Linked DNA regions of Homo sapiens: all the other regions are linked to region 2. Evidence: fine-mapped expression QTL. A gene starts in region 2. Each other region holds a variant in brackets. All regions are shown on one strand. Distances are between the middles of the regions.

Region 1 (8,179 bases), 98 kb after region 2:
GGATGTCTAGGTCTCTAGCAAGGCCAAATAAATTTTTCTCAATTATTTCCCCAAATATGTTTTCCAAACTTTTAGATTTCTCTTCTTCCTCAGGAATCTCAGTTATTCCTAGGTTTGGTTGCTTAACATAATCCCAAACTTCTTAGAGGGTTTGTTCATTTTTTCTTATTCTTTTTTCTTTGTCTGTGTTGGATTGGGTTAATTTGAAAACATTGTCTTCAAGCTCTGAAGTTCTTTCTTCTTGTTTGATTCCATTGCTGAGGCTTTTCAGGACATTTTGCATTTCACTAAGTGCGTCCTTTATTTCCTGAAGTTGTGATTGTTTTTTATTTATGCTAGTTATTTCACTGAAGATTTCTCCCCTTATTTCTTGTATCATTTTTTTTTATTTCCTTAAATTGGACTTCAGCTTTCTCTGGTGCATTTTTGATTAGCTTAAGACTGAACTTCTAAATTCTCTTTCAGGTAAATCAGGGATTTTTTCTTGGTTTGGATCTATTGCTGGTGAGCTAGTGTGATTTTGGCAGGGGTTGGGGGGTGGCTGTTAAAGAACCTTGTTTTGTCATATTACCAGAATTGTTTTTCTGGTTCCTTCTCATTTGGTATGCTATGTCAGAGGGAAGATTTAGGGCTCAAGGCTGCTGTTCAGATTATTTTGTCCCACAGGGTGTTCCCTTGATGTAGTACTCTCCCCCTTTTCCTAGGGATGTGGCTTTCTGGGAGCCGAGCTGTAGCGATTGTTATCTCTCTTCTGGATCTATCCACCCAGCAAGTCTACCAGGCTTCAGGCTGGTACTACAGGTTGTCTGCACTGAGTCCTGTGATGTGAACTGTCTTTCGGTCTCTCAGCTGTGGGTACCAACACCTGCTCCAGTGGAGGTGGCAGGGGGTGAATTGGACTCTGAGAGGGTCCGTAGTTTGGGTTGTTTAATGCACTGTTTTTGTGCTGGTTGGCCTCCTGCCAGGGGGTGGTGCTTTCAAGAGAGCATCAGCTGTGGTAGTATAGGGAGGATCAGGCGGTGGGTTGGGGGTCCTATAACACCCAAGAGTATATGCCTTTTGTCTTCAGCTACCAGGGTGGATAGGGAAGGACCATCAGGTGGGGGTGGGGCTCGACGTGTCTGAGCCTTGGGTGGGTCTTGCTGCAGCTGCTGTGGGGGTTGGGGCTGTGGTTCCCAGGTCATTGGAGTTATGTTCCTAGGAGGATTATGGCTGCCTCTGCTATGTCATGCAGGTGGTCAAGGAAGTGGGAGAAATCCAGAAGTCACACTCTTCAACCAGCTTCCACATGACCCAAAAAGTGGGTCTCACTCCCACTGTGTCCCACCCAGCCCCATCAACAGCAACAGTCTGTTTCCAGCCAGCAGGTGAACAGGGCTGAGAACTTGCCCCAGGCTACAAGCCTCCCAGCTGCAAAAGCAAGTAGGGCTTTTGTGCTTCCCCACCTGTGGATTCTGCACAACAGATTCATGCCCTCCCCTGAGTTCTGGCCAGGAAACTTTGCGTTTGGTTGGAATTTTTACAAAGTTCAGCTGGAGATTTCCTTCTCCCTGTGGTCTTTTCTTAGTTCCTCCCCTCCCCAAGGACCCCTGTCAGACAAGTCTGAAATAGCTTCCCAGGAGACTCAGAGCCCACAGGGTTTTTGCCACTGCTTCCTCTACCACTGTATTTTGCTCAGCTTTCTAAATTGACTTAGCTCCAGGTAAGGTCAGAATCTTCTCCCATAATTTAGACCCTCAGGTTCCCCAGTGAGGGTATGTGTTTGGGGGCAGACGATCCCCCTTTCCCACCTCCACAGCTTAGGCACTCACAGTATTTGGGCTGTCTCCCGGGTTTTGCAGGGGCAATCCACTTCCTTCAGAGGGTCTGTGGGTTCTCTTGGCTTTCCTGGTTTATTCCTGCAGTATTCTGGAGTGGTTAGTTAACACTGAGGTTTAAAACCCTACACTCTTGCCAAAACTCAAGGAAAACATGGGCAGCTCCCTCCATCTCCTCCCTTCCTAGGAGAGAATAAGGAAAGGCATGTGGCCTAGAAGCAAGGGGAAGAAAGAGGGCCAGAAGGAGAGAGGAGACCAGCATGTGCCCAGGATTAAAATCAGGCAAGTTCTCCACTTACGAGGGAAAGAAGGACATTGTCAAACTGCCTTTAGAGAAAGGACAGAGACAGAAGGGAGTTTTGTTCTTGTTGTTGTTGTTGTTGTTGTTGTGTTTGTTTGTTTGTTTTTTGAGATGGAGTCTCGCTCTCTCTCCAGGCTGGAGTGTAGTGGCACTATCTCAGCTCACTGCAACCTCCACCTCCCAGGTTCAAGCGATTCTCCTGCCTCAGCCTCCTGAGTAGCTGGGACTACAGGCACGTGCCACCATGCCCAGTTCATTTTTGTATTTTTAGTAGAGATGGGGTTTCACCATGTTGGCCAGGATGGTCTCGATCTCTTGACCGTGTGATCTGCCTGCCTCGGCCTCCCAAAGTGCTGGGATTACAGGCGTGAGCCACCATGCCCAGCCGAGAGAAGGGAGTTTTAAATGTTCTTCAGTGTTTCCAAAGGGCCTTCTCCATGACCATTGCTGCTGTAAGCTTTCCCCTATAACCAGGAGGTCTGGCTACCCATGGCCCCACATCCGAAGGCTCAGTGGGTAGAAGAGCTGAGCCTTCTCTGGTGAGAAGTGAGGTGCTGGGCTTGGATATCGGTTTTTCAGCACACTAACCCAGTTACCACCCTCTTTCCTTCTCTCTCCACTAGTCACACACCCCTGTTTTCTAGGTGTGAACCACTGACAAAGCATTTTTCATGCACCTTGCTTTGGTGGTGATGTGGCCCACATCTACATAGGCTCCAACTACTGCCAGCAGCTGGTGGAATGACTTAAGGTCTAGCAGAAGTCATATGGATAGGTCATATTGATAGAGTCATATCGCTATCCCTGGCGATTACTGCAGGTGCAGTAATCAGCTCAGACAGCACTGTGTGTCTGCTTAATCAGATGAGTGTCTGGATGATGTGTGTTATTTGAGAAGAGCACAGAGATTTGAGTAGTTCAGCCCAGATTCAAGCTCTGACTCAGCTACTTACCCACCCAGTACATGACGTGAGTGAATTAGTTAACTTCTCTGAGCCTATTTCCTTATCTGGAAAATAGAATTAATGCTGACATCATAGGATCACTGTGAACTAAAGTGGTTAATTAAAAACAAAAGTATTTGTGAGGTATGAAAGCCTGCAGTGATATGGGACACCATAAAGGTGGAGAACGTAGTATCTGAAGTTGAAGAGCCCGGCACTTGGGTTCCAGCTACACTGGTCACTAGTGCGGGGACCTTGAACAGATGCTGATGCTTTTATTTTTAATATAGACTTTTTGTTTTTCAGGCAGGGTCTCCTTCTATCACCTACGCTGGAGTGCAGTGGCATAAACATGACTCACTGCAGCCTTGACCTCCTGGGCTCAAGTAGTCCTCCTACCTCAGCCTCCTGAGTAGCTGGGAACACAGGCACATGCCACTATGCCCAGCTAATCTTTCAGTTTTGTAGAGACAGGGTCTTGCTATGTTGCCCAGGCCAGTCTCAAACTCCTGGGCTCAAGCAATCCTCCCGCCTCAGCCTCCCAAAGTGCTGGGGTTACAGGCATGAGCCACTGTGCCCGGCTAGACTTTAATTTTTAGAGCAGTATTAGGTTCCCAAAAAAATTGAGTTGGAAGTACAGAGATTTCCCATATATCACCCCCAACCCCAGCTTCCTCCACTGTCAACATCCCATGCTGAAGCGGTACATTAGTTACAATTGATGAACCTACACAGACCCATCATTATCACCCAAAGTTCATACTTTGCATTAGTGTTCACTCTTGGTGTACATTCTAAGGGTCTGGACGAATGTATAATGACATGCATCCACCATTACAACATCATGCTGAGTAGTTCCACTGCCCTAAAAATCCTCTGTTCTTCACCTGTTCATCCTTTGTTGCCCCCAGACCCCTGATAACCACTGATGCTTCTACTGTCTCCATAGTTTTGCCTTTTTCATAATGCCATGTAGTTGGAATTACACAATATGTAGCCTTTTCAGATTGGCTGTTTCACTTAGTGACATGCATTTAAGCTTCCTCCATGCCTTTTCATGGTTTGATAGCTCATTTTCTTTTAGTAATGAATAATACTCCATTCTCTGGATGTACCAGTTTATTTATCCATTCGCCTACTGAAGGAAATCTTGGTTGCTTCCAAGTTTTGGCAATTACAAATAAAACTGCTGTAAACATCCATGTGCAGGTTTTTTTGTGGATCTAAGTCTTCAACTCAATTGGGCAAATACCCAGGAGAATGATTGCTATATCATATTCACTTTTCTGAGCCTCATTTTCTTCACTGGTAAAGTGGAGATAACAATAGTCCCATAGGGTGATTGTGAAGTTTAATTGAGATAATGCACATGAAGCCCTTAGCAATGCACCCAGCACATAGGCAATACTCAACTAATGGTAGCCCATCCTTGTTATCCTATTCAAGAGTAATGACAATACAAATGTGAGAGATGGAAATTCAAGTATTGACCGAGGGATATGACACATGGAGGTGGCATAGTCATGCGTCATCTGTCCATACTCCAAGAGGGCACAGGGCAACAAGAAATACTAGAAGACAGTCAGGGCACCACTGCTGCCATTGAGGTGGGATCTGGTCATCTCCTAGGGCCTGTGACCCTGAGTCCTGCAGTCCTGAGCTGCCAGGGTAGGGGAGGTGGAGATCAACCCATGGTCCCACAGTGAAGTGTGTCCCAGCTTTAGCAAACCAAGGTATCCTCCCACTGTGCATTCCTCTCCTCCCCAAGCCTGCTCCTCCAGCAGCTCCCCACTCCCCTCCTTTTGACT[T/C]ATCTGAGCCAAGCCCTGTCCCTAACTAGAAACTCAGAGGTGATGAAAACAAAGTTTTTTCCTCGCTTTACTTACTTCCTGTGAACTCGCTTAATTGTTCCCAGATTACTAGGTCACCAGGAGGATTTGGTACCTTGGATTTTTTTTTCTTCTTCTTCCTTATGCTTTCTGGAGACAACAAGGGTCACTTGGGGTCCTGCCTTGTGTGGCAAGGGTATGCTGATCGGATTTCTCTGGAATCCATTTCTGTGGTGTTTCTTGAGTGAGGGGATGGACTGAGTGGCCTGGGTGGTGTGTGGCTTTCAGAAAGCAATGCATTATTTTCTGCAGAAGTAACTAAAGACACGTTCTCTGAGCCTCCAGTGATAGGCCATGTTAGCTGGAAACAATAATGGTGGTTGTATTTCTGTTGTTTCTATCTCAGCCTTTCTTTTTCAGGCTGCCATAGAATTATTAAATGGTTTGAGTCAAAATCAGGCCTGAGCCTTTCAGAAGCCTTTCCTTAGACAAACACCGCTGGTAACGCTTTAGTTTAGCCTTCTGACAAGTGGGTCTCATTACTCCACCCATGTGCCCTTCCCCTCTGCTCCCATTCCCCTCTCTTGGATAAAAGCCTGGGGAGGAGTGAGAACTGCTTTGCCCTGTGCTCTTGGAGCAGGGCCTTTCTCTCAGGATACAAAGCCCTTGGGGAAGCAGGCAATTCTGCCCATGATGCTTCTGATGCTTTGGGTGGAAAAGGTTGCCACCCGAGAGCCTGGTTTAGGCACCACTCCAGCAACACCCAGGAATCAGCTGAGTGTCCCCCAGCATGTCACCTCCACGGTGAGGGTGTTGGACCTGATGACCTCTTCTAGATCCATTTTTAAACATTTCTCCAAGTGACTTTAGCACTACCCAGTAGAGGTTTCTACAATGACAGGAATGTTCACTAAAGGCTACCCTGTACAATAATGGCAGCCACTGGTCACGTGTTGCCTTTGAGCACTTGAAATGTGAATGGTACAGTGCAGAAAGACTTATTTCATTTAATTTTAATTAATTTAAATTTAAGGAGCCACAAGGGGCTAACGGCTACCATATTAGACAACACAGGCCTAGGCTACTGGATTCTGTATGTTTAAAACTGTGTGTTCCATCCATTCTATCTAGAAATTATACCACATCCACCCATGTCTCTTCATTTCCACAGTATCCACCTTAAGCTGAGCCACCAACATCTCTTTCTTAGGAAATGACAATATTTACTCCTTGGTTTCCTTTCTCTAACTTTAGCTCCCTCTGATCCGTTTGCTACAGTGAAAAGTGATCTTAAAACAAAAATTGACCAAGTTACTCTTCTCCTCAAAATCCTTCAACAACTTCCCCACTGCAGTAAAATTGAAAACCCCTCATGAGGCCTGCAAGTGCCTGCATGCTCTGAGCCCTGCTCCCTTGAGTGTCTGCACAGTCTGAGCCCTGTTCCTTCAAGTGTCTGCACACTCTGAGCCCTGTTCCCTTCAGGCCTCATGCTGTCTCAGTCTCCCCACTGTACCCACCACAAATTAGGCTTCTGGAAGCCATCAAACCCTTTTTCAGTTCAGGTCCTTTGCTTAAACTTCCCATTTGTTCTAGAGCTGTGCTGTCCAATACAGATGCCACTAGCCACATGTGGTTTTTAAGAAATATGTATTTTTTCATTAATTAAAATTAAACAAAACTTAAGATTTATTTCTCAGTCACACTAGACACGTTTTAAGTGCTTGCTAGTCACATGTGGCTGATGGTTACCATATTGGACAGCACAACAGTTCTTTTGGACAGCACAGTTCTGGGACATTTTTCCCCACACTTGAGCTTAGCTAATTCCTACCCATCCTTCAAGTCCAACATTCCATAGAGGCCTTTTCTGACCCTCCACTCTAAATTAAGGGTCCCCGCTTTATTTCTCACAGAACCTGCAATTTTCCTTTTCAGTTCTTCCAACTCTTTGCAAAATTATAGTTACGTGTCTGACTGTTTAATATTCATGTTTCCTATTAAGATCTAAGGCAGTGTCTCTTTTGTCCACCTGTCAATCCTCAGCCCCTGTCTCAGTGCCTGGCACTTAGCAGGAGCTCATTCATGTTGAGTGAATGAATGAAATAATGAATACGTATATAGATGGGTATAGTGGCTAAACATCATTTACTTGCCTAAAGAAACACAAAATCAAGAGTGAGAGCTTAGGAACCACATGGTCCTGAAATAAAACTCTGACTTCCATTCTTATTCTAACCTTTGGGAGCCACTGTCTCCTCATGTAAAAAACGAATGTTATTGCCATCTTAGACTGCTGTGCTGAGGAGTGAATGGGCTGACACAGGCAAAGCCCTCAACATATAATTATAATAGGTGTCATGTGTACATGCGTTTTTTTCTCTTTATCCCCTCTGCTATGTCCTTCTATCCTTCTCCATGGTCCCCTCCCTTCCACGCTGCATCTCTGGACCTGGCCTCTGCGTCTCTCATGCCTCAGGCCCATCCCTCTCTAAGAGATCTTTAGTTCCTGCCAACCTGTCGCAACTCAAGGATTAAACTAAACATTTCTCCAGCATAGAGCACCCCCTATGTTTGGGCATTCTTCACTGTCTTCCCTGTATGTGGCTGTATAAACCAGCCTGAACTACCTTCCCACCCAGAGCTCATAAAGGCAGACTCCAGCCTGCAAATGCTCTCAGAATAGCATTTGCTCAGAATAGCAGGTGCTCTTAACACCTGGCAGAGAGGGGCCCCATTCTCTTTGGGCATTTTCCATCAATTTGTATCTGCAGACCACATGCATCAGAATCACCTCCAGGGCTTGTTTAAAATTCAGATTCTTGGGTCTCACTCTAGATTTATTTAACCAGAATCTCTGCAAGGGGGGCCCTGAACCTGCATTTTCAATAACCAGCTCAGATGATTCAGAGCTCTTGTCAAGCCTTCTCAGGGTATAACATTTAACCCCGGGGAATACTGGGAGGATGGTTCCGATAAGCCACTCACTGATCCTCCTTTAATGTTTATACAATTTCATTTTTACATCAAAAGATCATTTACCAAACACCTACCTAGTGAGTTATTGAGTTTATTACTATTATTTGGAACTCATAAACTCACATGAGGAATTTTGTCAGGCTTAAAGGGGGTGCCAACCCACTCTTCTGCCCAGAGTTACCTGCAGCAGCAAGCCATCCTGCAGACTTCCATGGGGTAAGTGTCCACAAAAGTCACTGGAAGTCCCCATTGGTAGTCATTTAGAAGGACGCAGTGTAATCAAAGGACCATCACTGTTGTCTTGAATGGGTCGTG
Region 2 (8,179 bases):
ATGATGAACTACTGCCTTGATTTGGAAAAATAAGATCTGCCCAAATCCTGGCTTTCTTTGGTGGTGGCTACTTTTTCAACCATCTCTGAAGCAGTTGAGAATTCTGGGCTCCATTTTAAAGTGGGAAAAACTGAGATCCTAAGAAATAGAAAGGAATTTCCCAGGAATTTCACCAGAGTGCAAAAATAGGAACTAATTCCCAGGGGTCCATTCAGTGTCTTGAGTCCCTGCCCTGATGTTCAGTTCATTCACACATTTACTGAACACCTACTATGTGCTAGACACTATGTCTCAGACTGGGAATGTAACACCTGGCCTTTGATCAACCTACAGGGTAGAGTCAGGTCTCTGGAACGGAAGCAAAAGAAATAAGTACCATGCACTCACTCACATGAACCTGTAGAATCCTCCTGGGGGATGATGGATTTCCAGAGAACTCTGGCATCTTGCCACAACCCACTAAGTTGTCTCAGGCAAAATTGTAGTAGAAACCTAGGCTCTTTGTACAAGACTCTGTCTACATGATAAAAAGCACCAGATTGAAAAATGATCAATTCCCTGCTCTCGACAGTCGGAACAAAAGAACAAGACTAACTATAGGCTTTGCCTGATTTATCTTGAGCAGGGATTGTACTTCTTTTGTGTAATAGGTGGTGTGCAGTGGCCATGGAGTGCTGGGTTTGGGATTGGAAAACCCAGAAGGCAAGTGAGTTTGCCACCTCTTCCCCATGTGCCCGTGTGCTGACTCCTTTATCCTCTCTGAGCTGGCTTCCTCACCCTCAATATGGGATGACATGTACTGTGCCTACTCTCAGAACTCAAAAGAGATAATCGTGTGAAAAGACTTGACAAAAGTCTAAAGTAGGAGTTGGCAAACTACAGCCTGGATAAATAAAGTTTTACTGAAACTACAGCCACACTTATCTGTCTGGTATTGTCCGTGGCTGCTTTCGCATTACAACAGCGGAGTTGAGTCATTGCCACGGAGTTCTTAGGGGCCACAAGCCTAAAATATTTACTATGCTGTCCTTCATAGGCAAAGTTTGCTGAGCACTGCTCTAAAGCACTGTTTAACCAGGTAGATTGCTGTTGCAGGGCTAGGCACAGGGGTAAGCTCCAAGTAGGAACTCACAGATTAAAATGTGGTTGGTTGAATCCATCATTAAGAATTTATCTTAATGAAACAATTTTATCTCTAATTGATTCGTTGACTTTTTAATAGACCCTTAACATTTACAGTTACAATCATGTCTCAAAACACTTGCAAATGTGGCCTGCAGTTTCTCTCTGCTAAAGTTTCACATCTAATCCCTTATTTAGATGTGATAACATCAGACATTCCTGGGCAGTTTTCAGGTGGTTCTGTGGTTACTGATTACGAACAGGAAAACAGCATCTCTATGTACATATCATGACCTGTTCATAAAAGATGAAATGATTTTGTAATGTTAATGGTTTGAAAGGCTTTAAATTGTTTTTCTTTTACTGTTTAGACATCTGTCTGCATTTAGATCAAGTTTCTAACAGAAAACCCCAAGCATGATTCTTCATTTATTAGAGCAGACATTTGCCTTTCAGTAAACAATGATGAATGTGGCCCAACTATGAGTTCTTGAAGGCGAGAATGGTATAGGCTTTTTAAAATCTGTATTCCCAGATGTGATCATTCATGATATAGTCACATAATACCATGAATAAACAGATGCTTGATAAATGCTGGCCAATTGACTCACTGACAGAAGGGATGGATGTTTCTTCACTTGGAAAATGTAAAGAACAATAAAGCGTGCCCTCCCCTCCCCTCTTATGAAGCTGAACTGAGATAAAGGAAGTTAAAAACTTCCTGTGAACTGTCAATCACTTGGCTGCTCCTCTGGTGTCTGATCACATTGCTGGGGCCTGATTTAGGTTGAGGGAGCCTCTTTAACATCCTTCCCCTCCAAAATGCTCATCCAGGCTTGCCTTAGGGCTCCTTTCCTGGGTGGTATGTGGGATCCACGTCAAAGCAACCTGGGGAAGTAAAACCAAGGTCAGACCTAAAAGAAAAAACAAGTCTCCAAAGGGAACATGCACCTTGGGAGAAGGTGGGGGAGAAGCGGCAGGAAGTCCCTTAACTGGCAATGCTGGGGTAGGCGTCCCCTGGGCTGACTGCATGCCTCTATGGAGGTCTAAGAACTTGGCTGTTGGAGCTCCCTACTCACCCCCAGCTGCCCCACTTCCATTTGACTTTATGAGACACTGCATAGTCACAAATCTTTGCAGAGAATAAGACTCCCTGGAGCATGGGTGTACACCTTGAGTTGCCACGACCTGGACACAGCTTTCCCTGAGCAAAGGAACATCCGCTCGGCCTTTGTGGAAGTTGCACCCTGGCGTCGCTCATTGCAGCTGAACCAAATATGAGGCTAGAAGGAACTTAGTGGTCATCCAATTCAGTGCCCCCATGTACTGACAGGACCTCTGAGCAGTTCCAGGGAGTCATGGCCTGCTTGGCCTGACTGTTGGGGGAGCCCTGGGGCATCATCTCTTCTCTCCGGCACAGGCACACCCTCTTTGTACAGCCTCCTCCTAAACTATGACTTCAGTGGAGTCACTCTGTTCCCCTCCAGCTGCCCTGCTCTGACACTTTCAACCCCAAGAGGTAGCGGCACCCTAGTCTGAGAGTCATCCCCTACTCTTCTTTTTCTATCCATTCCCACGCTTTTAAAGAGCCAATCCTTCTGATTTTTTAAAACAAAATATCAAATGATTCTGAACATTTGACAACACATTTGGACAGGAAAGACTTTTAAAGCAGATGTAAATTCATTCCTTTTTTTTTTTGCAGGGGCATTTGCATCTTCAGAGAGTCATGGAATTTGAGCTAGATGAGCGGTCAGACTGAGGTAGCTCATCTCCTCCTCTGATCCTGCATTTGCCATAGGACTGGCCATTTCACGTCACGCCCTCAAAACCACACAGCTCATGGCCTCAAGTCCAAATGGCCAGGCTCTTGGTGTGTTAGTTCCTTTCTGTGTACACAAACCCCCACCACACACCCTCTGCTCTGTCCAAACTTACAAAGGAGATGTCGCTTCCTCCTGACCCCCTCTACCTCAAATCTCCCTCATCCTTCAAAGCTCAGGGCAAATGTCCCTCCTCTCCAGAGCCTTCCCTGGAAACCTCTTGTCTTCTCCTTGTGGGGCTTTCCTGCCCTTCACTCACACTCATGAACTGGGGAGAGAATGCTGGTTAACAGCCCCCTCCTCTCCCAAGCCCACTCCTGGGCTGGAAGACTTGGCCGGTCATTTTAGGCTCTGATTAACGCTACTCCAGAAGATCAAAGTATGCAGTTAAAAACCCAGGCAAACTTTTGGAAAAAGTAAGTCAATTAGAAACATCTTAAAAAAGAAAAAAAAAAAAAAAAGAAACTATTTGACAGTAAATACTATAGCTAAACACATACAAACTATATGATACAATTCCATTCCTGGTTATTACCCAACAGAAATGCTTAAATCTATGCACCAAAAGACATGTACAAGAATACTCACAACAGAAATATGCAAAATATCCCCAAATGAAAACTACCCAAATGTCCATGAACATGGATAAATATTAATAATAGTGATAACCATTTATACAATGAAATACTTCACAGCTCTGAACAAACAAGAATTACATGCTGCAATATGATGAGATTCACAAACAATATTAAGTAGAAAAAATCCAGACACAAAAACTCTTTGATTCCATTTACATAACTTTCAAAAGTGACAAAACCAATCTATATGTTAGAAATTAGCTTAGTGGTTACCCTTGAGGTCGAGCGATCTATCACCAAACCAATTATACCACTGATAGTTACATCAATTCCATTCCTTTTCTACTGCTTGTTTTGATGGTCAGGAGAGAGATTTACAAGGGAGTTTGAAAAGTGGGAGAATCAATTCATTTAAACAAGGCTTTATTGCATGCTTCCCCATGGGCCAGGCATTGCCCTAGATGGTAGGGGTACAGGATGGATTAGACAGAATTTCTGCCCTCGAGGAAGTCACAGTCCAACGACCAGGCTCACACTCTAGAAAGGGCCCTCACTCTTCAGCATGAGGTGCCCACTCTGTGAAATGGCCAGTACCTAACTCATCCAAGAATTCTCCCCCTAGAAAGTCAAAGACACCCCTCACCCTATCAGGCCTGGAAGATGTACCCAGGCTGAAACACTTAGGTACCACCCACCAAAACATTGTCACCCTGTGCCTCCATAGGAGAGGGTTATAAGCTGAACTGAGAGCCGACTACCTCGCTCTGGAGTCCTCCAGAGCTTTGAGGAGTGATTTCCAGTGCCCATAGGCCAGCAGACCACTCAGACAAGGGCAATTTCGAGATTTCTAATCTAGGCAAGGGCCGTGCCAAGCACCACACTGACAGCTATCATTTGAGGCAATATTTCACTCTTATAGTGTGGTCACCGTCCCAGTGTGTTTTTCACATCTAATTTCATACAGGAAGTCAGCCCAGCCTCACTGCTTATCAGAACAGAGAACAGTCGGCCTCCTTGACTCTGAGGATCCCATAAGGCCTCAGTGATAAGCTGGCTGCCCCCAGATTCCTTCTCATCAGGAGGCTCAGGAGACAACTGGGATGGCCTATGTTCTGGGAAATGACAGCACCTAGCAGCATCAGTAACTCTACCAAATGACTTCGAGAGAAACCAGAGCTGGAGGGACCTCAGAAATTACCCAGGCCCAAAGATACTCCCATCTTTTTTTTTAAATGAGGAGATTGGGGCCAAAGGGCTGAAGTCTATTCCTCAAGGTCACACTAATAAGTGATGGCAAAACTGAGGACAAAATTGAAATCTCCAGACTCCAGGGTTTTTTCTGTATACACTCACCTGCAAAGCTCAAACCAGGAGAAGCAAATACCATCCTCTCACCTTCTAAACCCAGACCCTGTAGAGTCTCATAGGGCCTCTGGGCTAACTTGGACCCACCCTTGGAACTAAAGAAATTTACCTGCACAGGAGATTTTGCTTCTTTAAGCGCCTGGGCAAGCTCTAATCCCGGTGCAGTCAGAAGCATGCAGCCTGAAACCACCTCTTATATATGGGTCCTTTCTACACATGGTGTTTAGCCAAGAATTTGCGACCCCACCTCCCAGGACCTTGGTTCCTCCCCACTGTGTGTTCTCTGGAAGGGAGTGGAGTACCCAGGGCTTTGCGACTGGATTACACAAATCCAATTATTTCTTTAGAACACCATACAGAGAAAGCCTGTTTCAGTAATGCCTTAATGAGAGAGAGTTAGTCATCTTCTCACTTCCAACCCTGGGGAGGGTACTTTCAGGTGTGACCTAGAAAAGCATTTCACTGCAGGAGCACATGATACTGCTTGCTCACCTCCCCACAACTCCCAGGACACCAAAGAACCAAGACAGAGATTCCTGTACATCCCTATGTTTAAACTAACATTGACAGAAGCCTGGAAAGTATTTTCAAGAGGTGGCTGTGGGTTTTCTTTTATGGTTGTCAGAGTCTGAGGCAGCCCTCAGGGATGTTTCCTGCTAAGGAGGAAATCTGTGATTCATTTGTGCTATTGAGATCGCTCCCTCTTCCTTCCCAACCTACTTTCCAAATCCCCCATTTTGGCCATCTGGGACTCAGAACATTGACCTCCCACTGGTTGTCTCCTCACAGTTCACCTTGGGTCCCGTTGCTCCAAATCTGGTTGTTCTTCCCTTAAAGCATTTCTTAGCCCTCCTGTGGTTGCTCTAGACTTCTTCACTCCCTCCCCACCCCCACCCCCAAATCCTTCTCCTAGGTTCCCACCACCACTTGCACAGATTTCCATCATAGCAGCTTAGTTGGTTCCAGCTTGCCTGCCTCCACGCTTGCACACCTAGGATCCCCAGAACCCAGAACCATGCCTAGTACCCAGGAGGTGCTCAATATGTGTCAGTGGAATCAGAGTCCCTTGCCTGTGGAAATCCTCTGTCCTCTTCCTCCCCGCCTGCTTCTTGGCCTCTGCCTTGACTCTAATCTCTCCAACTCAATCATTTTGTGTGATTATCACTCCACCCATTTTATTAGTACTGATAAATTAACTAATATTGATAATAATAGCCAACACGTTTTGAGCACTTATGACATGCCAAGCACAATGCTAAGCACATTGCATGCAGAATCTCATGGAATCTTCACAACTTTGTGAGGTAGTGCTATTATTATCCACATTCTACAAAAAGAAAACGGAGGCACAGCATGGCAACTCGCCCAAGATAACCGCAGCCAGTAAACAGCAGAGATGGGGCTAAAGTCCCAGGGTGTCAGGTTCCACTAACTTCTCCTCATCTTTGTCAAGGAATTGTCTCCCTGCCACTGTCAAATCAAATCCAAAGCTTTCTTCCTGAGCTAAACGCTCTTTGGAGCCTTCCCCCTGCCTCATGTGCCAAATAGCCACCCTTCCTCGCATGGGTCTGAAGGTGTTATGAGGATAGCAGAAGCAGTGGATCTGGGAAGACCATTATTATTATTATCTATCTCCCAGACATAACCTTTTCATTTTCATCTCCTCATCCTGGCCCTTAGTTATCTTCCCCCTTCTATTCATCATCTTTTCAGGGACTCCAGGTGGGGGGCTTCCGCTCATCCCTTGGGACAGCACCCTGCACCTGGCACAGGGTTAGGCTCACTCTATGTCTAAGTTGTTGTTATGGTCACCACTGGGCTTACCATAAATTGTGCTGCGGATTCACAGAGCCACCGAGACGCATAGGGTAAGGCCCAAGGGCCATTTCCTCCCGTGACAACTCTTGAAAGTTATTGTCCTGGGTGACAGGAAACAGATGGCCGGGGAGCCTTGCACAGCAGCACTGTGGCCTTTTAACATCTCAGAGGTCATACATCCCTTCCCCAGGCTTCCGACTGTCACCCAGGACAGACTAGTATGCCTGAGAAAAAGGCAGTGAAGGCAAGTGCATCTGGTGATGAGCCTTCTGTCTCTGCAAGGCACAGGCAATCCTGACCCACAGTGGGCTGTGGACCAGAAGTGGGTTGGCAAGTTTGTGATTTATGACCAGAAATTTACTTTCCCGTGGAAACAAGATTTTAGGAGTGGTGAAGCCTTTCCCAGAAAGGCTTTGATGGGCTTCACAAGCTCAGGAGCAGTAGAACCGGAGCACTTGCTAGAGTTCTAAGTCCTGGAGGCAAAGAAGAGGGAAATGCATTCCTCGGCTGGTGGCACAGTGGAGTATTGGAGAATGAGGGTTGGCTTGAAAGTCAGAAACACAGATGTAGGTTCACTAACTTTGTGAAGCTGGGCAAGCCATTTCCTCTTTCTGGGACTCAATCATGTGAAACACAGTTGTGCTCGTCATCTCTCTACTTTCTGTTACAACATATTATGATTCTGTTTGGGACCAGCCTTGAGCAAACATTCAAAGGAGGTCAAATGCGTCTGTGGCACCTTCTAATGTCCTACTTCCCACTTCTTCTAGAAGAGTCCAAGTGCCCTAAATAATCTGCCTCTCCCACAAACCTAATTGCTCTCTAAAGTTTCTCCTTCCTTTCCCTCTAATCAAAATTCTCATTCCTTCAGGGCACGGGAAAGCAATCAAATTGAATTCCTGATGTCTCACTACTGTGTGAATAGCTTCCAAGTCCTTAACCTCACCATAATATTTGCATTTTTTAAAATAGAGAACTCCTTTTCCAAATGAATCCCTGATTGTTGGAATTTGGGGCACTGAAATAAGAAGTAAAAAAATCCAGTTGAGGAATAAAATAGAGTACTGAGATAGTAAATAATGACTGCTCCAAGGTGACCCTTCATGGGCACACAGGTTATTTATGGGGTTTCATTAGACTCACGTTAAGGAACAAGTAAAACTGTTTTGTATCCAACACAACTGTAAATAAGAAAAACTACTGAAATGCCTATGGCTAAGCTCTAACCATTGATTCTCCCTTTGCCAACATAAGAGTAAAGCGAGAAAGTCATGGGGTAGCATTACCCTGGCCAGGGTTACTTCTGGCAGCCCCACAGACAGGGGATGTCAGGCTGTGGTGGCTGCAGCAGCACCAAAGCTTCATAAAACTAACTGACGGCCAGGCATGGTGGCTCACGCCTGTAATCCCAACACTTTGGGAGGCCGAGGCAGGCGGATCACGAGGTCAGGAGACCAACATGACCAACAGCCT
Region 3 (8,179 bases), 36 kb after region 2:
TCCTATTTCACACCCCTTGTCTGCTCCCCTTCCCTCGCTTCTCTTAAATAACACTTGACTGCTTTCCTAATAGAGATATTTGGCCTTTAAATGCCCAAATAAATGTTCCTGGGTGGTTCCCATTCTTCGAGGCCAGCTCCAGTGCCTCCTCCTCCAGGAAGCCCTCCCTCTGCCTCCAGGAAGCCATCTCTCTGCCTTGAATCTTCCAAACACTACATCTGACTTCTCTCAGGGTGCTGGTCCCATTGCACTGTGTATTCTGCTTGTCCATGTACAGGCCTCCTGGCCTCCTGTCCTGCACCAGGCTGTGCTCCTTGGAGACAGGGATCGAGGTTTGGATATCTTAGTGTCCCCAACAGCAGGAGTTGGCAAGCATGAACCATGGCTGCCTCACAATCATCCAGGGAGCTTCCTCAAGGCATAGAGCCTGAGTGAGACCCACTTCTGGGGCTGGGGCTGGGATTCTGGCCTGGCTCCTGGGAGTCTCCATTTTAAGCCAGCCAGGCTTGTGATCCTCTGGCCATAGCACCCAGCCTGTTATCTTGCACAGAGTAGGGCCTCAGTTACTGTTGAATGATACCCCATTTACAAATGAGGACATAAACAGAGAAGCACAGCCACTTGGCCCACAAGGATCAAATCAGAAGGAGGCTCCCCAGACCCTGACTCTGCAGTGATGGTTTGGGACAGACCCTTGAAGTCCCTCCTGCCCCGCTAGTCCCTAGGGGCTCATTTGAAGAGGAGCCAGGGGGTCTTCTCATTGGCTATCTAAAGAAGCTAAGGTTCCTAGAGAGGGCCAAGCTAAGTGGAGTAACTCAAGGCAAGGAGGTAGCTGACCAAGGACAAACTAAGGACTTGGGGCCATAAGAATTAAACCCAGGCTTTGATCACACATGAAGACCCAATGTCGCTATGGAGTAGCCCTGCTTGCTGGTCACACAGCATTTTACCAAACACACCCGGGTGCAGGGCGCTCTTAACACTGGATGTGGGGAGAGGCAAGAGGACTGGGGTTCAGCCCCGGGTCAGCTGTCAGCCACACCCTGAACTGGGCAAGTCCATGGTGAACTAAACCCTTCAGGATGCACCTGCAGCTCACCTGAGAGAGACAAGACAGGTGGTTGGAGTCATGCGGCTAGGTCATGAAAGGTGGGCGAGTACTCACCCAGGTTACCTCTGCCCATGCAGGTTCGTGTGTGCCCAGCTACCTAACCCTGTGCTGGAGAGCATCAGCGTCATCGACACACCAGGGATCCTCTCTGGGGAGAAGCAGAGGATCAGCCGGGGTAAGCAACCTGCCTGAGGGGTGTTGGCTGTGGGCTCCATGGTTCTGGCACGTTCAGTCTCTTACATACCAGAAGAGAAGCACCCAGGGCCATGCTGTCCCTTGGTGAGCCGGCACTTCTCCTGTGCTGTGTGGGATCATTTTACCTGGGGCAGTCCTAGGCCGGGGTTGGCAGGGGTCGGGAGAGGGGAATTCAGGTCCACCGTAGCTCAGGAGATAGCTGGCCTCAGTCTTCTCATCTGTAAAATGAAGACATCAATATCAGTCTTACCTCGTTGGGTTTATTCATGCTACAAGGGGCACCTTCCATGGCCCTGATCCTGGCTTGCTTCTTAAGTTCCTGGGGAGCTTGCAGCTCTGCAGGGCAGCCAAATGCATACAGAGAAATTCAGCTCAATGGTATCAGTGCCCTGGGTCATAAGAGGAGGGAACCAGGTAGTGAAAGCACTTCAAAAACTGTTCACTACAGATAAATACAGGATAATTGCTCATTAAAGGAGGTTGCCTGGTATGGTGGTTAGAAGACAGAACTCTGGAGTCAGGCTGGCAGGGTTCTAAGCCTGCCTCTGCCACTTCATAGCACAGTGACCCTCAGCAGGTTTCTTTATTTCAGTTACTTTGTCTGAAAAATGGTGTGGGGCGGTGGGGGCGGGTGGGGTGGGAATAGTATTATCCATCTTACAGAGTTGTTTGAAGATTAAAAGAAATGCTTAAGATAAAAAGCCTTTTCTGGTTGGCACATAGCAAGTACCTAGTAACCATGAGGGATTATAGATGATCATCATCATCATCGTTGTTTTCTTTTTTTTTTTTTTTTTGAGACAGAGTCTCAGTCTGTTGCCAGGCTGGAGTGCAGTGGCACGATCTCAGCTCACCGCAACCTCTGCCTCCCGGGTTCAAGCGATTCTCCTGCCTCAGCCTCCCAAGTAGCTGGGATTACAGGCGTGCACCACCACACCCAGCTAATTTTTTGTATTTTTAGTAGAGACGGAGTTTTACCATGTTGGCCAGAATGGTCTCGATCTCCTGACCTCGTAATCCACCTACCTTGGCCTCCCAAAGTGTTGGGGATTACAGGCGGGAACCACCGCACCCAGCCTGTTTTCTTTTTTCTAACTCTAAAATGCTAGGCAGATGCTATCAAAAGCTAAAAACAACTGCTCTGGGCCCCCACCCCCAGCCTGTCCTGGCACAGTTTGCTGAGTGTCCTGTATAGCCCACTACCCTCTCTGTGCCATGTGTTGTATCTCTGGCAAGAAAATCAGATGACGCCATGCCCACCCCAATATTGGAGCTAGTTGCCAGGGCTGGAGCCACATCAGCACTCAGAAGTCAGCCTATGGGTAAGGAAGGGCTTTGAACTGCTGGGGTTCTCTGGGAAGCAGCTAGAACTCTTGCCTGAATGGACCTAGGTAGGTGACTGTCTGCATGTGCCTTCACCCTCTGTGCTCTGTGGCTCTGGCTGGGACACAGATCTGCCCTGCCCATGTCTGTGCCACAATAGTGGGGCCCAGAAACCTTTGCTCTTTCTGCAAGAGCATGGCCTGCCCAGGCCAGCACTGCTCACCCCAGACCCCTCAGAGGAGAGGTCACAGCCTCATGGTGTGACAGGCCAGTGCTCCTGCAGTTGTGTATTGACGAGGCCCAAGTGGTGCAGGCCCTTGGCCCAGGTGCAGGCCACTAGTGCCAGACCTGGGCTTCTGTCCAGTGCTCCTGTGAGCTGCCTTGGTGTCCTCTCTGCAGAAAGCAGCTCTCTTCTGATGAGGGCAGGTGTGTGGTGCAGGGCCAGGCTCGGCTCTTTGAGGCTACACTATGCCTGTGTGTGAGCTGCCATGGCTGGGAGTGGAAAGGGAAGACAGTGAGAGAGGCCCTCCAGGTCAGCAGCCTGCTCAAGGGCCAGGTTAACCCGAGTCAGCCCTCCAGGGAAGACACAGCCTGGAGTCCTCATCCTGTAGCAGGTGGGAGGGAGTGGGGAGGCTGAACATCCTGAGAGGAAAGCCCTGCCCTTCCTCCTTACCACCTCTTGCTTTGCTTAGGAGGTGAGACCTGGGAAGAAGAGGGGAAATGAAGCAACTGAGTCAGGAGGGACTTGGGAAACTGTGTTAGCAGTTCCTGTAATTGGTGGCCTGTGAATTCTGGGACATCACAGTGTCACCTGGGAAGGGGGTCTTGGAAGACTTGATCTCCTGGCTCCCTATCTCTGGGCTGTATGGTGGAGGTGATAGGGAGCTGGAACCCCTGGCCTGGGAAAATAGGGATGTCTGAGCCTCCCTCCTTCCAGCCAGCACGCACGCTGTAAGCACCTGGCTCCCTGTTAAGGGCCCTGTGGAGGGACAGCACGGGTGGTTTTTCTGTCTTGCTTTGGTTTGTTTGCCGGAGCACCCCCTTTCTCCTAACCCACCTATTCCCAACCCCAAGTGGTTCATCTGGGGTTTACCCTGCGTTTAAGCCTGAAGGGGATTTGCTGTTTCACTCAGGCAGCTCAGGACTCCTCCAGGAAGGCTGGGGAAAGCCACCCCTTCCCAGTGTGAACTCCCTGGGGGACGTCACATGTGCACCTGCAAGGCCAGTGTAGCCTGACCAGCGGGTCCAGAGAGGACTCCAGCCTCTGCGGTTTCCAAGGACACTGTACTAGGAATTCAGAGTTCTGGGCTTTAGAACCTGTGTGTGTCTCAACAGGTCACATTTTCAGTGTCCCCATGTGTAACAAGGGGTAATGATATGTACCACACAGCCGTCTTGTGAGGTCTATAGACCATATGAAAACACGGGCCATAGCCCTGGGTCTGGATCACCATGAGCTACCTTCCTCCCTCCCTCCCTGTCAGTTGGCACCACCTATCATACAATCCCAGAGTAATCTGTGTGAATAGTTTCCCTTGTAGTTGTGCAGTGCACAGCCTGTGCACCTGTATGTGGCAGGCTGGTTCCCAGGGACTCCTGCCTTCCTCAGTTCCTATCCTATTCTATTCTTTTCCTATTTCTGTTTTTGTTGTTGTTGTTGTTGTTGCTGTTGTTGTTGTTTTGAGACGGAGTCTCGCTCTGTCACCAAGCTGGACTGCAATGGCGTAATCTCGGCTCACTGCAACCTCTGCCTCCTGAGTTCAAGCGATTCTCCTGCCTCAGCCTCCTGAGTAGCTGGGACGACAGGCATGCGCCACCACACCCAGCTAATTTTTGTATTTTTAGTAGAGACGGGGTTTCACTACCTCTCTCCTGCCTTTGTCTTTGGACCCCAGTGACTGCCTTAAGCAAATTAGGCCCTTGGTGTTCTTGCCTGCACTTCCTAATGCCTCCCATCCCACATTGACTAAGCACCAGGTCCCCCTACCTCTGGGAGAAATGATGGCCCCAGGAGTGGCTTTGCAGGCCAGTTTGTTTTCTGCTTTCCTGAGTCCAGACTGTAAATGCAGCTGCTGGCAAAAGCAGCCTGCGTTAAAAACAAGAGCTAGAACTGGGCTGCTGGCGCCTGGGGCGGTGCTGACCTCAGCACCCTGAGGAGACCAGGACAGTTGGGGGAAGGGCGTCAGACACCCTCAGTTATCTGTGGTACCCCAAACGAGTAAAGTTTCCAGGGTGCAGAGCCCAACCCCTTTCTTTCTCACAATTGGCCTTAGAACACATAG[C/T]TCCAGTTTAAACTGACGCACACCTCCCCCACCCTCCCCCACCCATACCTCCTTTTACGCACACACCCACTCCCACACCCACACATGCATACACACTCCTCACACATATCCTGCATATACACAACTCCCCTCTTCCCCACAGCAACCCCCTCCCACACACACACACACACACACACACACACACACAAATGTGTGCATAGAACAAAACTTGCTTTCTCATGGCTTCTTGCCTAGGGCTCCAAGAGCTCTGGGTTTGGCCACAGAGCAGACTGGGTGCTTCTCGCCTTACTCCAGCCAGCCCAGGCAAGGACCGGACACCCTTCCTCCCTGGGATAGTCCTGCCAACTATGTCCTACACGAGGGCATCTAGAACCTGAAACTCAGCCCACCTTCTGCTCACTGAGCCTCATACCTGGCGCAGGGCTGTGTCTCACCAGATAAAAAGGGGCATGGTTATCAAGTCGGCACAGAGGCCCCTACTGGCCATATTAGACTGCCTGTTCTGCAAAGTGAGCTGCTTCCCAGGGCTCCAAGACCTCAGGCTTCACAGGAAGGAGCACTCGGGCCCCAGGCTGGACTAGGGCGGCAAAGGGTCGTCCTTGCTCAGGGTGTGGACCCTCTACTGGGCCTGGGGCGGGGTGTGTCTTGTGGGAAGAAGGCTGGGGTGCCCGGGAAGCTGATTCTGGGAGGTCCTGGGCCAGCACTTGTCTCTGGATGCAGATGCATTGGGGTGGGCAGGGGAGGAAGACAGGGAGGTGGTTCCTGGAAGTGGCAGGATGTGCCCCAGCCTGGCTCATTACTGGGAAGAAGTGAGGATGCAGCAGGAGTGGGAGGGCTCCAGAAGGCTGAGTGTCCTGAGCTTAGGAACCACATTTCCTGGCTGCTTCCCAGCTAGAAATCCCCATAGGCGCCACCTTAGGAAAGCAGGGCGGGGCTTTGTGCTCACATCACAGACTGCACAGCTTGAAGCTCCTCCCCACAGGCCCCTTTCTGCACAGGTGAGCTCAGTAAGGCCAGAGCAGGTTGAAAATTTGCCCGGATCACACATCTAGGGAACTCGGGTCTTCCTATTCCTGGTCCACGGCTTCTCAGCACATTATCATCACCTGCCCCGGAAGAGCACAGGGGGTAGGAATGAGGGCAAACCTCTCATCTCCAGGTTTCCTCTAGGGGTCTTTAGGGCTCAGACCTTGGCAGGTCTGGGCTGATCCTTGCAGCCTCACATTCCTAGCCCATCCAGGGCACCCTCATTGGAGCAGAGCCTGCACTTAAAGGCCTCTGGGTCTTCCCAGACTACGTGCCGGTACAGGCACGCCTGTGTGGGCGCTCCTGTGCCTGGGCAGAGCAGCCGAGTCCTGACGCCCTTCAAAAGGCCTTGCCAACCATCTGCTCGGGCCGCTCTTTGCCGTTACTTCTGGGAAGCATCTAATGTGGCATTTCTTCCCCGTTGTCAGCCAAACTCTTCCCACATTTTGGAAATTGATGCCTTGTTATTCCTCTTTTGCTCAAATGCCTTTAAATCTTGACGGAGATTTTTTTGGGGAGGGATGGGGTTTTGTATGTACCCACCGCAAGTAAGTGCCTGGTTTGAGGGCTCAGCCTCTGAGCTTCAGGCTCACATGGCTGTGAGCTGTTATAGAAAGAGAATGTGGGCTGCAAGTCAAGGAGCTGGGTTCCAGGCCTGAGTTTGCCACCACCTGGCTGTGTGAGCTTGGGCAAGCCCCTTAATCTCTTTGTGTCCAGATTCCCTGTCCTGTAAGATGTGTATGCCCTACTTACCTCCTGGGATACAGAGAATTATGAAGAGCGAATGAGGTCACGTGGCTGGAAACCCGAAGAAGTATGCTGCCCTGTGAGGGCCCAGGCACTGCATGCCAGGCCATGATGGAAGCCGGCGGGTGAGGAAGGGGTGGCTTTCCTTACTGTGTTTGTCTGATTGATTTCCTCTTGCCTGGCATTACTTCAAAGTGCTTTCTTTCCAGTCATCTGGAGCCTCCGGTTGGAGGGGACCATAGATCCCTGCAGGCTGCCCAGTCTCCAGGCCCGGAGCTGGCTGACTAGACCTCTTAGAGCCAGCAGACTTGTGCTATGAAGTCCAGGAAGGGCAGCTTCTCTGCTCTGTCTCTTGGGGCTTGAATCTCCCCCGACTCACTAGTCCATATTTCATGAACACTTGGGCTGCCGCAGGTGCCCAAGAGCTACCGTTGTGGGTCTCAGAGCCATCGCTGGGACCAGAGAGGGGAAGGGGGCCTGTCACTGGCCATAGCACTCACCGCAGCTGCTGAGGCAGTCTGTGCTGTCAGATCTTGTTGCCACAGCTCTACCACAGAGTCCTCATTCAGCTCTACCACAGACCCCTCATTCAGTCATTTGTTATCCCTATTTTGCAGCTGAGAAAATTGAGGTTCAGATTTGCCAAATAAATGAGAAAGCTAATCCTATACCATACCCTTTTTCTTACTGGGTCCAGTCCATACCTTTGAGATACCGCCATTCCTAGATCTGCACCTAAGTCCAGGCCAAGTGAACAACTAAATATCCACCCTACAGATGACACAGCCTCGGGGTTAGCCAGGAGCAGGGAAGTCGAGCTTCAGAGCAACCCATGGAGTCATTGCTTGATGGTCATGGTCTTCACAGCCACACCTGGCTGGAAGCTTCTGGCATTACTGAGTCTGTAATTGGATAGCAGCTTTCCAGAGCAAATAGGAGGCCTCTGCTTATAAAATCACGGAAAGAGTTCCCAGAAGCCCTTGGCCTGTCCTCAGGCAGAGGCAGACTTCACACAGGCATCCCCGAGGCCTGTAAGACAGCAGCCTGCAGCCTCTCTCTCTTGCTGTGCCTGCAAAGGGTCCCTTGTAGCTAATCTCCATCCATCCTGTTGTACTCCCCACCCTCACACCTCTGGTCTCAGATGCAGAGAATTGTGAACCGAGAAAGGAAGCTCGGAGGTTGTCCAGCTCAATCCCCTGATTTGACAGGCAAAGAGACAGAGGACTAGAGAGGGGAGATTCTTGCCCAAGGACACACAGTAAGTTAGTGGCTAAGCGGAAACGAGAGGTGGACTCACCCAGGCCAGTGCTCCTCTGGTGACTCCTACAGAGCACATCCCATCTCATAGAAACTAGGGCTTAAAAGGAGTGCTTTACAAAAAACAGCAGGGCAATGAGAACAGCCAAGGTCACAGCTCAGCAGTTTCACCTGCATCCTCTGATTTGTTTAGATCCTCACAATAACCCTACGACTGAGTCACTGATTCCTCAACCAT

Alleles and levels. Alleles are on the strand shown, and positions count from the first base shown. SD is a standard deviation of normalised expression in the study named.
As copies of T replace C in region 1, the expression in esophagus mucosa of the gene that starts at base 5,057 in region 2 goes down (small effect, 0.37 SD a copy in GTEx).
In carriers of allele C in region 3, the expression in tibial nerve of the gene that starts at base 5,057 in region 2 tends to be lower than with T alone (small effect, 0.30 SD a copy in GTEx).

Evidence for each region. PIP is the estimated chance that this variant, and not a neighbour inherited with it, causes the effect.
Region 1: its variant is fine-mapped to the expression of CAPN14 in esophagus mucosa (GTEx, PIP above 0.99).
Region 3: its variant is fine-mapped to the expression of CAPN14 in tibial nerve (GTEx, PIP 0.90).

Annotation. Positions count from the first base shown.
Region 1 is chr2:31,310,082-31,318,260 of GRCh38, forward strand. No RefSeq gene overlaps it. Among named protein-coding and RNA genes, the nearest start is that of EHD3, 80 kb to the left of the region's middle. The variant T/C (reference allele first, on the strand shown) is at 4,871.
Region 2 is chr2:31,212,459-31,220,637 of GRCh38, forward strand. It overlaps CAPN14 (calpain 14), which reads right to left and starts at 5,057. Exons shown (of 22, transcript NM_001145122.2): 1 at 4,998-5,057. RefSeq lists enhancers at 1,680-2,180, 2,181-2,681.
Region 3 is chr2:31,248,183-31,256,361 of GRCh38, forward strand. It overlaps EHD3 (EH domain containing 3), which reads left to right. Exons shown (of 6, transcript NM_014600.3): 3 at 1,189-1,286. It overlaps LOC124905983 (a long non-coding RNA gene), which reads right to left. Exons shown (of 4, transcript XR_007086270.1): 3 at 1,166-1,524. Among named protein-coding and RNA genes, the nearest start is that of EHD3, 18 kb to the left of the region's middle. RefSeq lists enhancers at 4,544-4,623, 4,664-4,713, 4,994-5,073, 8,025-8,179. The variant C/T (reference allele first, on the strand shown) is at 4,912.